Homo sapiens: one gene and its partner. The protein of the gene in region 1 interacts with the protein of each later gene in a pairwise test. Each region holds a gene or a part of one and is shown in the gene's direction. Other genes may lie near its edges.

Region 1 (8,426 bases):
GCAGCATGCCTGCCAAGTCCACACTGTTGGGAGTGATGGGTTGGGCCTTGCAGCAGGAGAGGAGGGAATGTGTCTCTCCTCCACCATCCCATCCTTACTACCTCTCAAGTCTGTGACAGGCACGTGACTTTTGGCTCCAGGCTTTTCTACCCTATGCTGGATGTGAAACAAGTAATGTGATTTGGTGGAAAGAAACAATATTTGGAATCAACAGATTTGGTTGGAATAAGAAAGCTGCTAGTTATCAGAACCTGGGCTTCTTAAACCACTGGTGTCTCCCCCTTTTTTTTTTCCCTTCCTTTCCCACGTATGGACCACTGGTGTCCTTATCCATAAAACAGAAATGACCAGAATGCCTGCCTTGGAGAACTCCCAGCATTTCTTTCTCTTCTATGAAGCCCAGGATAGCAGCTGAGGTGGAACATCCAGTGGGCTGCATCTACCTATCATCAGTTCATGCTGTCCTTCTGTCTGTCTCTTTGGGCGAGCCTGAGGTTGTTCATGTGGGATGATCCTCCAAGCCCCGCCTCATGCAGACAGCAGCGGCCAGAGATTTTCAGAAGCCTCAACTCCCACCTTACCTCCAGATATGGGGTCATATATTTCCTTTAAGGGAGTTGTGTTTTGTGAGTAATTTTTAAAATTTACAATATATAGGCTGTACTATTTTAAAGTGAAGTGTTTCATCTGGGGTAGGGTGAACTAATCACCAAACATACTGGAGGAAATGGTGAAAAACTCAAAAGAAAGATAATTTTTGCATTTTCTCTCGTTTGATTTTCCATTCACAAAGCAAACTATACTCCTTTTTTTTCCTATAAAAGTTCACACTGGCTGTGTTTCTATGAGGAGTCATATCACATAGCTCACAGTAAGATGACACTTCGTTCAATCTATTCTTAGGAACAATGTAAAAATACGTATGTGGTGAGATTAACAATTTTCTTATTTGAACTCTGAACACCAAAGCTGACAGTCTCCTCCCTCTTCAGATGTTTGAAATCCTTTATGTAAAAGCCTAATTTAAACTTTATAGTAATAGATAATATTTTTAAATGTAATGAGATTTAAATATATCAGTCCCAAAATGTTTATTAAAAGCAAATGTTTTTCTTCATGTTTGAAAAGTAAAAAATATTAATACAAAGTTGGTTCTTATACCTTAAGTCTTCTATTAACTTATCTCCATGTTTCTCCTTTACTTAATTTCCCAATTTTTGCATGAGCTGGTACAAAAAACATTACCCACTTCCCACAAATGATGGTACCATTAAATCGTATTCTGACTTATGGTGTCAGTGGAATTCTATTTTGATAGCCTGCTTCTTATAAGATTAGAAGGGGATAATTATATTACCTGTCATTCAAGTTAAGGCATCACACAGTTATCAGTTTGCATTTATTTTCTTTGAATTAATACAATTAAAATATATGTAATTCTTATTTCAGTTTGACTACACCTATCATGACACCTAATCCAAAGACAAAAATTAAATAGTTTGTTAGTATACATGAGGATAAAACCATGGCAATATGACAGGGTGTGGTTCTAACAAGTACTTCCTGTACATAAAATAAAGACCAGTTCTATATCTGGTCTTTAATCCAAGTCAAACTTTTCCTTAGTTTATTTTTGTAGTCTTTTAACTGTTAAGTGGTATGAATTCTTTTGGCTTATGCATTACATAAGCGCCATCCATAAAACTTGTTCTGGTATGTATCAAGGACCGTACAAATAATCATTGTTGGATCTAGAAATTTCACCCCTAAAAATATATCCTAAGGAAATAATTCCAAATGTAGGGAAAGCTATATTCAAAAATCTTTTCATTGTATTACTTAAAATAGTAAAAACTCGAAACAAGCTAAATAGTAAGATGAGAGTGATTGAGTAAATTATAGTAAACTAGCTGATAGAACTTTTTTATAGCAATTGAAAATGAAAGATTGTATATAAAAAGCAAGGAAGATGATTGTCATGATTTTTATTTAAATAATTTTTACTATAAAAAGTTTATATTCCATTTAAGAAAACAGGAAAATAAAGAGAATAGAAAAAAGAAAAATAATTATAATATTCGGGAAGAAAAGCAGACTACTCAGTTGTATCTGTAATACGATTATAATTTTTGTTAAATAATAGAGCAAGAATACTTGAAAGTTGTTTTACAGAGTTTTATTCTTTTCTTATCAGATATATGTAGCATAATTTGTAATATAGTCTTATTTATATTATTATTTATAATATACAAATAATATAGCATAATTTCTTATACGTTTATATTTAAAACTCAGAAACCCTCATTTGGAGCATTCTCCCATTCTTGCTGCCCAAATGAACAGGTAAAGAGTGCAAATTAAAAGATTGTTCCAGCTGGGCATTGTGGCTCATGCCTGTAATCCCAGCACTTTGGGAGGCTGAGGCAAGTGGATCACGAGGTCAAGAGTTCAATACCAGCCTAGCCAACATGGTAAAACCCCGTCTCTACTAAAAATACAAAAATTAGCTGGGCGTGGTGGTGCATGCCTGTAATCCCAGCTACTCGGCAGGCTGAGGCAGGAGAATCGCTTGAACCCGGTAGGTGGAGGTTGCAGTGAGCAGAGATCACGCCACTGCACTCCAACCTGAGCAAAAGAGCAATACTTCATCTCAAAAAAAAAAAAAAAAAAAAGGTTGCTCCACAGTCTTGCGTGGTAGGTACCAGTATTCCGACTTTACAGGTGAGAAACAGGCTGAGAGTTGAGCTAACTTATCCAAGGTCTCAAAGCTGGTACTAGCAGAACAGAGATTGACAATCACATCTTACTAGCTTTTGAATGCCTGAACTCTTTTTTCCCTTCCTGGTATCATCATGGTGAGAATCAAATGAGGCAAACATAGAAATGTATTCTGGAAATGGGGGTATTGCCCCTCCCTGGGGTTTCAGGATCACCCACTTTTCCCATGCCGTCCCACAAAGGACAGAGATCATAATTGTAAAGCTTTGTGAAAAAATAAACAAGATACTGGTAATATCCTGTTACAATTTTCTTTTTGAAAATGTCTCAGCCAGGCACAGTGGTTCACGCCTGTAATCCCAGCATTTTGGGAGGCTGAGGCAGGAGGATCATTTGAGGCCAGGAGTTTGAGACCAGCCTAGGCAACATAACGAGACTCCATCTCCACTTTTTTTTTTTTAATGTCTCAAATCTTCTGTTGTAGGGAAATTCTGATCTATGAGAGGCTGCTTGAAATAAATGGGCTACTGGCCAAGGCTTGGAAATGTTTGTGGTATGAGAAGGTCAGTTGTTATTTGGCATCGACAGATACATTATTATTGCTATTTAGAAACAATTAGTTTCTAAATATTTGAAACAATTAGTTTCAAATTATTGAAAAGGCAGTAAATGTAAAATTATTCCTTTGGAAAGACCCTATTTATAGAAAATTGTGCCTCAGGTATACATTTTGCTTACCATTAGATCTATTTCAATTCCAAAGGAATATATGGAGGGAGAGGGAGTATTTGTAGCTTCTAAAAATGTTCATGGAGGGGTGGCTTATTCTCTTTGCCCTTAGTTTAATAGAAGCAAGAGGTAGTTTGGAGTAGCAGGAAGTCAGAGATGGGTTCATTGTATCGTTATTTCTAGTCCTAGCTCTTCACTGTCCTTGGCAAGGTTCTTAACCTCTCTGGGTTCCCCTCTTCTTACCTTTCTCCTATTCTTCCCCAAGTGTGGGAGTCACACTTCAACACTATACACCCGGGAGTGTTGTGTTGTTAAAAAGTATTGTTAAATACTTTTTAAACGTGTTGAATACTTGTTAAATACTTTTTAAATGTGTATTTATTTATTTGAGTTAGTACTACATACACATGGTTCAACATGTAAAAGACATAAAGGGAAATTCAGTGCCATCTCCCTCCCACCTGCTCCTTTCTGCGTGTCCCTGTTCCAGTTCTCAGTTTTCTTTTTCAAACTCAGAAATCCCAAGAGTCTGTGAAGGGCAAATGAAAAGCAAAATGACTAGACTAAATCTGAATGAAAGGGATTTATTCTAAGGTGATACTGCTCACTGCTCAAGGTGCTTATCTGCCCCCTTCATGGGCTCCCTCAAGTTTTCTGAGACTTCAAACAGCAACACTCAACTAAACTATAAAATAGTCACAGCACCTTTTCGAGAAATTTTGACTTTGAACTTGCTAATATGCAAAGGAAATAGTCCAACCATTTCTCTAGAACTTGGTTGATAAGAAATTTTATTTTGTCCCATTTATAATTTTATTCTAAAAATTTGTTTTTTTCTGCTATCGAGTAGGAGAGAAGGGAATAAGGGAAAGATTTGTTTTTGCACTACTGTGAGATTTTTATACCTTAGGCCAGGACAAAGCACACAAGAAATAAAATATTAACAAAATGTCCTTAATTTTCCTTTCTGACCAAAATTGCTTGCCTCTGCATTTATATATAAAGAAGGGATGTGTTGAGCAAATGAAGGAGGACAGCTAGGCAGACAAGATTTGCCCAGCGCCTGGCATACAATAGGGGCACAGGTCATTGCTTAACAAAACGTATAATTTATTAATACATGCTCGAAGCACTGCTATACTAACCAAATATTCCCTGCAAAATTTTAAATTTACAGTGCAAAATAAGAATAATTTAAAAACTGTTTCTAGAAAAAGAGCTTTAAGGGCTTCCCCCCCCATAACAATTTAAGATTAACCTAGAACATGGTAGTTATTTTGCAAGAACTGGGGAGCACCACTCTCTTCTCCTTGTGCATGTCTGACATTGGAGGCCTATTGTGCACGAAGTTGTGATCAAAATCCAAGTCAATTCATTTTGAAAAGTAACATGACTACAACATCCATCCACTCCAATGAGCAAAGGGTGTAGGCTTTGAGTATACACAGCAGGCCACACACTATGGGTCATGGCATACAGTCTAGCGTTGGAGGTTGCTGCATTTGTTCATGTATCTATGAGTTAGGTTTTAAGTTTTTTCCCCCTGTTCTATTAATATAATTAATTAGTTAATTAACCCCACTCATTCATTTACTCAGTCCACAGCCTTTTGTTAAGAGCCCGCCTAGGACATAAAGATGAAGATCCAGTGCCTACCCTCATGAAACATAGAATCCGAGCGAAGAAGGCTTACTTTGCAATAGTCATCCAAGTGGTGCTTTTATGGCGCTTTACTGCTCCCGCCAACACCCAGTGCCTGGGTATGACCTCAGGCGGTGGCAGAGCCCGCGTGCGAGGTCCCGCTCTCCCTGGCTTGCCCCGGCAGGGCGGAGTCAGCCTAGCAGCCGCCGGCGCTGCCCCCGCGCGGCCTTTAATTTTGCAGCTCCGACCACCGGAAATTAGTCGAAGGCTGAGCGGACCCGGTCGAGAGCCGGCGAGCTCCGCGCAGGGAGGGTGCGCCCACCGGTCCCGCCGGGCGCCCGCGGGACGCGCCGCCAGGGCCCTCTCCGCCGGGGGCTCGGCGCTCGCCCACCTCTTCCAAATTTAACCATTACCTAAATCCGAAGGGAAATGAGCAAACCTCTCGGATTGGGTGTCAAGGTATTTTCAGCCTCGTTGGGCGTATTTATCCCCAAGTGTTTCCACAACAAGCTATTTCGGGGCCTGCGGGGCAGGTTTCGCTCTGCGGACGCCGTGGCCACTCGCCGGGCTCCAGGCCGGCGGCACCGCGGGCCGGTGATTCACGGTCCCGACCCGGGGGTGGTGCAGCCCTAGGAGGCGGCGGGGTCGGGGGTGGGGGGGGCGGGTGACCGAGGCCTGAGGGGCGGGGAGGGTCCTCGGAGCGGGGCGCCCCCCACCCCTCTCTCGCCAGTCAATCTGTGTCCTCAATCTGTGGCTTCTCTCGCTGCGGAAGTCTCCCTGGAGCCAAGAATAGTTCATTTTCTTTCAAGTCATTTCTAGTGCCTAAGTGTCCGGACCTCCAATTTCCCCCATCCCCTGCCGACCCACAGGGAGAGAACTGGGAGGACTACTAAGGGGCGCGCGGGACGGGCTGGAAAGGCCAGGCCCCCCACCGCCTGGCCACTTGCGCAAAGGAGCGCGCCCGGCCGCCCGACGGGGGTTGGGAGCAGGTCTGGGAGGGCTATGCGAGCGACTCAGTAACGCTCAGGAAGTGAAGCTTGTGGTTTTGGGGGCTGAGCTCGGAAGGAGAATTTTTTTTTTTTTTAAGTCAGAGAGATAGAGCGGTCTCTCCCGAAAGCAAGATTCCGTTTGAAAACTCTCCTAGCGCGGTGCCCGCGCCGTGACTCCGCAGGTAGGTCCGCCGAGCCTGTTCTGCGCCTCCTGCCCTGGTGGGGGCGGCCGCGGGGACTCGCAGAGCACTGGCACTGCGGGGGCGATCAGAGGGCGCGGGCGGTTTCCCACCTGCTGCGGACCGCCGTGCGGGAGCCCAGAGAGCTCCGGCAGCTGGGTTAGGGCGCGACCCGCGCAGTGTGACTGGAAATCTGGAGCTGGGGGCGCGCAGCAGGCGGTCTGGTGGTTCGGCAGGGGAGCCAAATCCACCAGGGAAGGAAACATCTGGTGGGGAGGCGGCGGCAGCTGCGCTCGGGAGGACGCCCCCTTAGCGCCCTCGGCTCCCTCCTTCCTGGGCCCGGACGGTGAGGAGAGGCCTGAGCGCGCGGAGGGGCCGCCCCACCTCCCGCGCCAGCTGCAGCGCGGGGTTGCCTTCCCACGCGCTCGGCCCAGGCCCCGGGGCCCCTATCTCCTCCAAACTCTGTCGCTCCCCACAGGAACCAGCAAAGCGGGCCGGGGTGCGAGAGAGGCGTGGGCTTACAGCCCGGGTGGGGAGGCGGCCTCCGCGTCCGCCTGGTCTCTGGTGGCGCCAGCCCAGACCCAGCTCCGGCGCTGACAGTTACCCCGCCCCCATCTGTCCCGCTCCCAGCCAACGTGGGTCCAAGCTGCAGCGGGACCCTCGGGACAACGCCACTCCGTTTTTCTTTTCTTCCGAGTTTCGTGGCTGTTTAAAGAATTGGGTTTGGGGTTTGTGGCGTCTAATTGTACGGACGAGAAGTGCAGGAAGCGACAAAGCTCTAGCCCTAGGAGCCACCCCGGAGGGAGGCGGATGGCACTCTCACCCCTAGGGGCATTCTGGCGCTTGGGTAGCGGGAAACTTCGCGGGAGCCCCGCGACACGTCCCAGGCGTCTTTTCTCCCAGGTCTATTCCCATTCCTCCGGAGAAGGGGACACAATGGGGCTGGGGATCTGGAGCAGGGGGCCTGCACCCTACAGGGACCAAGGCCTGTAGGACTCGTTTGAGCTGAGAGCGCCAACGGACAGACGTAGACTGTGTGGCCTGCATCTTGCCTAGGAAGCCGAGGGGCTCCTAGTCCGGCAGTGGAAACAGCGCGAAGCCGGAGGACTGCAGGTCCTGCCCCGGCCCAGAGTTCCCAGCACCCTCGTTTCTGAACCAGCCGAGGCCACGGAGAACTGCTGTACTGCAGCTCACGTGTGAACCCGGTCACCATCGCCTTCACCCCGGGAGGAAGGCAGATTCGTTTACTCCAGACCACCTCGACTGTGGGGTACCGCCCCCGGAGCCGGCTGGAGCCTAGCGGCAGGCGCAGCCACGCCCTCCCGCTGCGCTCAGATTTCGACCTGGTATTAGGTGAACTGATTGGGGGTTAATGAGAGCGACGCCCCGGGCAGCTAGTTCCCTCCCGGGCCCGGGCCCGACCCCCGCTCTCTGCTAATGCAGCCTGCGCGCTCTGGCGTCCTGTCTTTTTTGTCTGCTAAATTGTCGGTGCACTACCGACTCGGGACACCTAGCATTTCCCAGTCAACGTTCGTGGATCGGGCTCCACCTCCCTAGGACAAGATTTTTTGGTGAGCAGAACGGAAAGTGCTTTTTTCCCGGGACCTGATTCCCGAGGTTAGGTCTCCATGGTCTGGGATGGCTCGCCGCAGCCTCGACCGGTGCCCGCCGCAGCCGGGAGTCCAAGGGCAAAGTTTCTCCTACGTGGGGCACTAGTGAGGGGCGAGTGGGATCACCCAGATGCGAGTTTCTCCTGGGGCGGGGGTTGGTCGTCTGTTGTTCCCCTCACTTTCCTGTCCCTTTGCTCTCCCACCTCCTTTCTCTGGCCTCTGCTGTCCCCAATCCCTCTGCTGCTGTCCTCCCGCCGCCCCACAGTTTTATCTTGTGTTCTGTTCCCCCCTCCCCCCGGTCCTTTCACTCCAGTTGGTAGCTGGCTCTTGGAGGTCTTGGCTCCTTGCCCCTTCCGGGTCCTCGACCACTGGGCATCCCCGGCCCCTAAACCGATCCGCGTGTCCCCGCCCTCCCTCGCCAGCCGTAAAGCACAGCCAGGCAGGCGATGAGTAGCTGAGTTGGGGTAACCCACCCGATGGGAACTACAGCTCTCCAGGGAGTTTGATTGCCGGAGCGAGCTTCGCTAGGAAAGGGGAGGAGCTGGGGGGCGTGGGCAGGG
Region 2 (7,485 bases), on another chromosome or scaffold:
TGGGATTATAGGCACGAGCCACCACGCCTGGATAATTTTTTGTATTTTTAGTAGAGACAGGGTTTCGCTATGTTTGTCAGGCTGGTCTCAAACTCCTGACTTCAGGTGATCCACCCACCTTGGCTTCCCAAAGTGCTGGGACTACAGGTGTGAGCCACCACGCCCAGCCTGATTTTTATTTTTACAGTTTATCTCATTCTTTGGAACAAGAGCACTTTTAAAGCTCATTGGAACCTCCGAGTCCCGCACACCGGGTTGGGGAGCGGAGAAAGTATCCAACGGCGGCTGAAGAAATCTGATTCACCTGCAGTTTCTAGAAGCCTTCTATTTCCTGCTTAGCAACAGGGTGGGAGACTCTTCACCCAGTTATGTTTATAGTCTCCTTGTTCAGTCCAGACGGTCACCTTCCTCGTGTGTCTCGTATATCAGATGCAGTCACACAGCACACTGGCAGGAAATGCACATCAGACATCTTCCAGGCTGTGTCTCTGTGGCTTTTGTTAAAGCTACCAGAGATGTATTGGAACACATTTAGAATTTTTCCTTAGAGACAAGGGCAGATATCCTAACCCAAACTGAAAGCTGAGCTGTCAGGCTCCAGACGTGTGGGAAGCCCATATTGGATGAGAGGTGGTCCTCATGCAGTGTTAGGAGCGGGCACCTGTGGAGCTGGGCAGGTGAGCGTTTTTTTTTTTTATTTTGAGACAGTCTCGCTCTGTTGCCCATGCTGGAGTGCAGCGGCGTGATCTCGGCTCCCTGCAACCTCCACCTCCCAGGTTCGAGCGATTCTCCTGCCTCGGTCTCCCAAGAAGCTGGGATTACAGGCACGTGCCTTCATGCCCAGCTAATTTTTGTATTTTTAGTAGAGACGGGGTTTCACCATGTTGGCCAGGCTGGTCTCGAACTCCTGACCTCAAGTAATCCGCCTGCCTCGGCTTCCCAAAGTGCTGGGATTACAGGTGGGAGCCTGCGCCTGGCTGAGCATGTTTAACATTGAACTTCAGATTACGTAATGACTGAGTGTCCCAGGCCACTGCCAAGTCTTTGGAATGAGGAACGTAGTGATGAAGTGTTACTTCCTTAAAGAATTTGAAACAAGGCTGGGCGTAGTGGCTCGCCCCCATAATCCCACACTTTGGGAGGCCAAAGTGGGAGGATTTCTTGAGCCCAGGAGTTTGAGACAAGCCTGGGCAACGTAGTGTCTCTACTAAAAAGAAAAAGAATTCCTGGGCTGGTTGCAATGGGTCATGCCTGTAATCCTAGCACTTTGGGAGGCTGAGGTGGACAGATTGCTTGAGCGCAGGAGTTAAAGATCAGTCTGGGCAACATAGTGAGACTCCATCTCTACAAAAATTAGCCAGGTGTGGTGACAGGTGCCTGTGGTCCCAGCTACTCGGGAGGCTGAGGCAGGAGGACTGATTTGAGCCCAGGACGGAGGTTGCAGTGAGCCAAGATAGCATTGCTGCACTCCCTCCAGCCTGGGCACTAGAATGAGACTCTATCTCCAAATAAATAAATAATGTTTTTTTGTTTTGTTTTTCAGACAGAGTCTTGCTCTGTCACCCAGGCTGCAGTGCCGTGGCGTGATCTTGAACTGCCTTGTGGGTTTAAGCGATCCTTGTGCCTCAGACTCCTGAGTAGCTGGGACTATAGGTGTGCGCCACCACATTCAGCTAATTTTTTTGTATTTTTGGTAGACTTGGGGTTTCACCTTCTTGGCCAGGCTGGTCTCAAACTTCTGGCCTCAAGCAATTTGTCTGCCTCAGCCTCCCAAAGTGCTGGGATTATAGGTGTGAGCCCCCTCAGCCCAGCAGGATTGTGTTTTAAATGAATCTTATATTGAATTTCCCACAAGTACCAGGACACAGGGCTAATTCTTAACATTTTTCTCATGATGGAAGGAAGCATAATGGATTATGAAAATCACTTCTGTGGCTGGGTGCTGGGGCTCATGCCTATAATTCCAACACTTTGGGAGGCTAAGGCAGAAGGATTGTTTGAGGCCACGTGTTCAAGACCAGCCTGGGCAACACAGCAAAACCCCATCTCTAGGAAAATTACAAAAATAGCTGGGTATAGTGGTGTGTGCTTATAGCCCCTGCTACTCAGGAGCCTGAGGTGGGAGGATCACTTGAGCCTGGGAGGTCGAGGCTGCAGCCAGCTATGACTGCACCACTGCACTCCACCATGGGCAACAGAGTAGACTTTGTCTCAAGAAAAATAAAATCACTTCTGTGTAAAGTTGTTGACTGGAGGCTCCTCCTGGAGCTGGTCTCTGAATTCTTATTTATTCATTTATTTTTTTAACTGAGTCTCAGTTGCCCAGGCTGGAGTGCAGTGGTGTGACCTCAGCTCACTGCACCCTACGTCTCCTGGTTCAAGTGATTCTCCTGCCCCAGCCTCCTGAGTAGCTGGGACTACGGGTACCCTCCACCACGCCTGGCTAATTTTTTTTTTTTTTTTTATTAAATGGAGTCTCACTCTGTCACTGATGCTGGAGTGCAGTGGCACCGTGTTGGCTCACTGCAACCTCCGTCTCCTGGTTTCAAGCAATTCTTCTGCCTCAGCCTCCCCAGTAGCTGGGATTACAGGCGCCCACCATGCCTGGCTAGTTTTTTTTAAAAATATTTTTAGTAGAGATGGGGTTTCACCATCTTGGCCAGGCTGGTCTCGAACTCCTGACCTCAGGTGATCCACTTGCCTCGGCCTCCCAAAGTGCTGGGATTACAGGCGTGAACCACCGCGCGCAGCCAATTTTTGTATTTTTAGTAGAGACAGGGTTTCACCCTGTTGACCAGGCTGGTCTCAAACTCCTGACCTCAGGTGATCTACCCACCTCAGCCTCCCAAAGTGCTGGAATTACAGGCGTGAGCCACCATGCCTAGCCTTGGTCCCTCAATTCTGTTCATCCCGTCCAGGCCGTGCTGTCCTCCATGCTGTGAACCGAGCTTCCTCCTGGGAGTTGGAGGGAGGGCCACCTGTCACTTGCCACACTGTCTTGTAGGATCAGGAGCGTCTGGGCAAGCAGCTCAAGTTACGTGCAGAAAGGGAAGAAAAGGAGAAGCTGAAAGAGGAGGCCAAGCGGGCCAAGGAGGAGGCCAAGAAGAAGAAGGAGGAAGAGAAGGAGCTTAAGGAAAAGGAGAGGCGGGAGAAGCGGGAGAAGGATGAGAAGGAGAAGGCGGAGAAGCAGCGGCTCAAGGAGGAGCGGCGCAAGGAGAGACAGGAAGCCCTGGAGTGAGTGTCCTTGGAGGCCATGCTGGGCCCGCCACCCTGCTGCTGGATTCCGCTCCTGGCCACTCTGATGGGGCCTTTCCACTTCACAGGCAGATGGCGGCTCCCTTCAGTTCCTTCCCATTTCTCCTTCGTGAGGTGCCCGTGGGGCCCTGACGTGGGAGCGGTGGAAAGCAGCTCCCTGCTCTTTAGTGCTCCCCCACGTCCAACTCACCCTGGACCCCTTGTCTCTGCTGTGACCATCCTTCCAGTTCCCAACCAACTTAGGCATTTGCATTGCAGGATTGTGGGTTTTGTCTGTGCTAATTGTGCTCTGACTGGCTAAAGTTTTTTATATATATTCTAGTCACAGGAAGAATTTTATTGACTGTTTTCCATTTTTATTGTGAAGACCTATGTAAAAGCCTTATACTAGACATGAAAATAACTTATATTCATTTAATGTAAAATGAAATACTTGCCATATACTAACAGTTGAGTGCTGCGGTCCCTTCCAGAGCCAAAGCAAAGAGTCGGCTGAAATGTCATTTGCTGTCTCACAGGGCTAAACTTGAGGAAAAAAGGAAAAAGGAAGAAGAGAAACGGTTAAGAGAAGAAGAGAAGGTAGAGTGTTTCCCACAGAGCTTCCCCGTCCCAGCCCGTTGGAGAAGCAGATGCCCAAAGTGGAATTCTTGCCACAGCCGTCACCTAATATTCTCTTGGTTTGGGGAAACCAAATGGCGCCCGCAGGGAGGGCGAGTCTGTCTAGATGCGTTCTTGTTGCTTCTTCCCAGTGCTGGCTGTCACATGCCTACTGGCCCTGCAATCCTGGCACTTCTACCCACAAGGGCAACTTGGACATTTTGAGATTGGCTGGCTCAGTTGCGGGTCCGTGGGTTTTGAGAGCTGAAAATCACAGTAGTGCCTTCAAGCTAAAATGCTTGACGTTCGGTTCTGGGGGCCTTTGCATGTTTTGCAACACATACTGTTCCTCTTCCTCTCCTCTTTCTCATCACCATCTCTTAACATCACAGCGCATTAAAGCAGAGAAGGCCGAAATCACGAGGTTCTTCCAGAAACCAAAGACTCCACAGGCCCCCAAGGTGAGCAGCCGGCTGCCTTTGCTTTTGGGTTTCAGCTCTGCTAGACTTTTCCTTTCTGAAAGTGAAAGGGTCTCTCCCCAGCCAGCTTCTCTCATTAGGAGGGAGGGAGCCTCCAGTGACCTAGGGCACTTCCATTTCTGGTTAAGTCTTGAGGCTCAATATTTTGTCCTTCGCTTTGTCCCAAAGAGGTAAAAAGTGGCATGTCTGATTAAACAGTGCTGTTTTCAGAGGTTACTTCATGAATAATTTTGTGTTAGGCGTAAGAGAAATTCACCATGTTTTTACCCTTGGGAAACTTAGGCTTAAGGAGGGAGCACGTTTAGCTGTAAAACAACAGTACAATTCACAAAGGTTTACTTTCCCTGCCTGGCGTCGGTCACCTGGCATCTCAGACCTTCTGAGCCACCATCTGTGCATGGAAACCACAGCCCTCCTTCCCCTTTACCCAGAGGGAGCCCATCTCCAATGTTAGGGGTCCTTCAGTGCCTTTCCCTGCTCCACTCACTGTATTTATACACATGTGTACTTAGCTATCTCAGATTTGTGCCATGTTGCCACATTTAGATGTATTTCATTCTTTTTAATGTATCTGGCCTTTATTTATTTTTTGAGGCAGGGTCTCACTGTCACCCAGGCTGTAGTGCAGTTGCACAATCAAAGCTCACCACAGCCTTGACCTCTCAGGGTCTGGTGATCCTGTCACCTCAGCCTTCCCGAGTAGCTGGGACTACAGGCATGTGCCACCATGCCTGGCTAATTTTTTATTTTTATTTTTTTTGAGATGGAGTCTCACTCTGTCACCCAGGCTGCAGTACAGTGGTGCGATCTCAGCTCACTGCAACGTCCACCTCCCGGGTTCCAGTGATTCTTCTGTGTCAGCCTCCCAGGTAGCTGGGATTACAGGCACATGCTACCACACCTGGCTAATTTTTGTATTTTTAGTATAGACGGGGTTTTACCATGTTGGCTAGGCTGGTCTTGAACTCCTGACCTCAGGTGATCCGCCCGCCTCAGCCTCCCGAAGTGCCGGGATTATAGGCGTGAGCCACCGTGCCCGGCCTAATTTTTTAATTTTTTTTTGTAGAGACTGGGTTTTGCTATGTTGCCCAGGCTGGTCTCGACGACCTGGCTTCAAATGATCCTCCAAACCTCGGCCTCTCAAAGCACTTGGATTACAGGTGTGAGTCCCTGCACCTGGCCTGTCCTTTTATTTGTATGTTGAGACATTTGATGGCAATTGTGTATCCTGAAGGTGCACAATGTGACATTGTTGTACCTACACATCATATTGTGACAGCCAGAGATCCACATCATGTATTTTCACTGCCGCATAATACTTCATAATGCAATGATATGGTTTCTCTCTTTTTTTACAAAAATTATTTATTTATTTAGAGACGGAGTATTGCTCTGTCACCCATGCTGGAGAGCAGTGGCGCTATCTCTCGGCTCACTCTAACCTTTGTCTCCCGGGTTCAAGCAATTCTTCTACCTCAGCCTCCCGAGTAGCTGGGATTACAGGTGCCTGCCACCACTCCCAGCTAATTTTTTGTGTTTTTAGTAGAGACGGGGTTTCACCATATTGGCCAGGCTGGTCTTGAACTCCTGACCTCAGATGATCTGCCCATCTCAGCCTCCCTAATTTTATTTTTAGTAGAGACTGGGTCTCACTGTGTTGCCAGGGCTGGTCTCGACCTCCTGGTCTCAAGCATTTCTCTCGCTTTGGCCACCCACCGTGCTAGGATCACAGGCATGAGCCACAGAGCCTGCCACTATCTCAACCTCTTTGCCCCTCAGTGGTGTAGGGGGGGTCCCTGCACATGCTTCTCTGCACACATGCATTCCTCTGGGACAGCCAAGTAAGCATGAGTTCACCTCTAGGACAAAATAGCATATTGCTGAAGCATCATGAGCCATGGCCAGAGTGCGTGCCAGATGGGAAACTCAGATGTACATTCCCGGCGATGTGTGGAAATTTCCTCCCCATTCTCTGCTATCACTGCAATTTTTATGGGATTAATTTTCTTTTAACTTTGCCAGTCTGATGGATTTTTAAAAATTGACATTGTTTTACTTTCCATTTTTACTTGACTCTTGGTGCAGTTGAGCATCTTTTTCTGTTCGTTTGCCATTTTAGTTCTTCTATGACTTGCCAATTCCTATTTTTTTACCTATTTTTCTACAGGATTTTCTTTTTTTTTCTTTGCCTGATCTGTAAGTTTTTTTTAACATAGTCTAGTATTTCATTCTCCGTGATATTTCGTCTCAGCCTGTTACCTCTTTGTTTACAGTCTTTTTTTTTTTTTTTTTTGAGACACAGTTTCACTCTGTTGCTGAGGCTGGAGTGCAGTGGTGCCATCTCGGCTCACTGCAAGCTCCACCTCCTGGGTTCACACCATTCTCCTGCCTCAGCCTCCCGAGTAGCTGGGACTACAAGCGCCCGCCACCATGCCCCGCTAATTTTTTGTATTTTTAGTAGAGACGGGGTTTGCACCGTGTTGGCCAGGATGGTCTCGATCTCCTGACCTTGTGATCCGCCCGCCTCGGCCTCCCAAAGGGCTGGGATTACAGGTGTGAGCCACCGTGCCCGGCCTTTGTTGTTTTTTGTTTGTTTGTTTTGAGACAAAGTTTCGCTCATTGCCCAGGCTGGAGTGCAGTGGCATGATCTCAGCTCACCACAACCTCTGCCTCCTGCGTTCAAATGATTCTCTTGCCTCAGCCTCCCGAGTAGCTGAGATTACAGGCATGTGCTGCCACGCCCAGCTAATTTTGTATTTTTAGTAGAGACGGGGTTTTTCCATGTTGGTCAGGCTTGTCTTGAACTACTGACCTCAGGTGATCCGCCTACCTCGGCCTCCCAAAGTGCTGGGATTACAGGTGTGAGCCACCACGCCCAGCTACAGTGTCTTTCATTATACTGAAATTTCTCCTTTTGGCCAGGTGCGGTGGCTTATGCCTGTAATCTCAGCATTTGGGGAGGCCAAGGCGGGTGAATCATCTGAGGTCAGGAGCTTGAGACCAGCCTGGCCAACAAGGTGTCTCTACTAAAAATACTAAAAATACAAAAATTAGCCGGGCGTGGTGGTAGGCGTCTGTAATCCCAGCTGCTCATGAGGCTGAGGCAGGAGAATCGCCCAACCCAGGAGGCAGAGGTTGCAGTGAGCCGAGATTG

Evidence for each region.
Region 2: the proteins of GFI1 (region 1) and CHAF1A interact in binary tests that used the Homo sapiens proteins (3 or more experiments, as listed by UniProt).

The regions. Positions count from the first base shown.
Region 1 is NC_000001.11:92,483,847-92,492,272, reverse strand, and holds the start of GFI1 (zinc finger protein Gfi-1), read left to right. Parts: upstream 1-5,347; 5' UTR 5,348-5,547; intron 5,548-6,173; exon of another isoform or gene 6,174-7,827; intron 7,828-8,426. UniProt on the Homo sapiens protein: Transcription repressor essential for hematopoiesis. Functions in a cell-context and development-specific manner. Binds to 5'-TAAATCAC[AT]GCA-3' in the promoter region of a large number of genes.
Region 2 is NC_000019.10:4,419,562-4,427,046, forward strand, and holds part of CHAF1A (chromatin assembly factor 1 subunit A), read left to right. Parts: intron 1-3,004; coding exon 3,005-3,234; intron 3,235-3,773; coding exon 3,774-3,834; intron 3,835-4,244; coding exon 4,245-4,313; intron 4,314-7,485. UniProt on the Homo sapiens protein: Acts as a component of the histone chaperone complex chromatin assembly factor 1 (CAF-1), which assembles histone octamers onto DNA during replication and repair.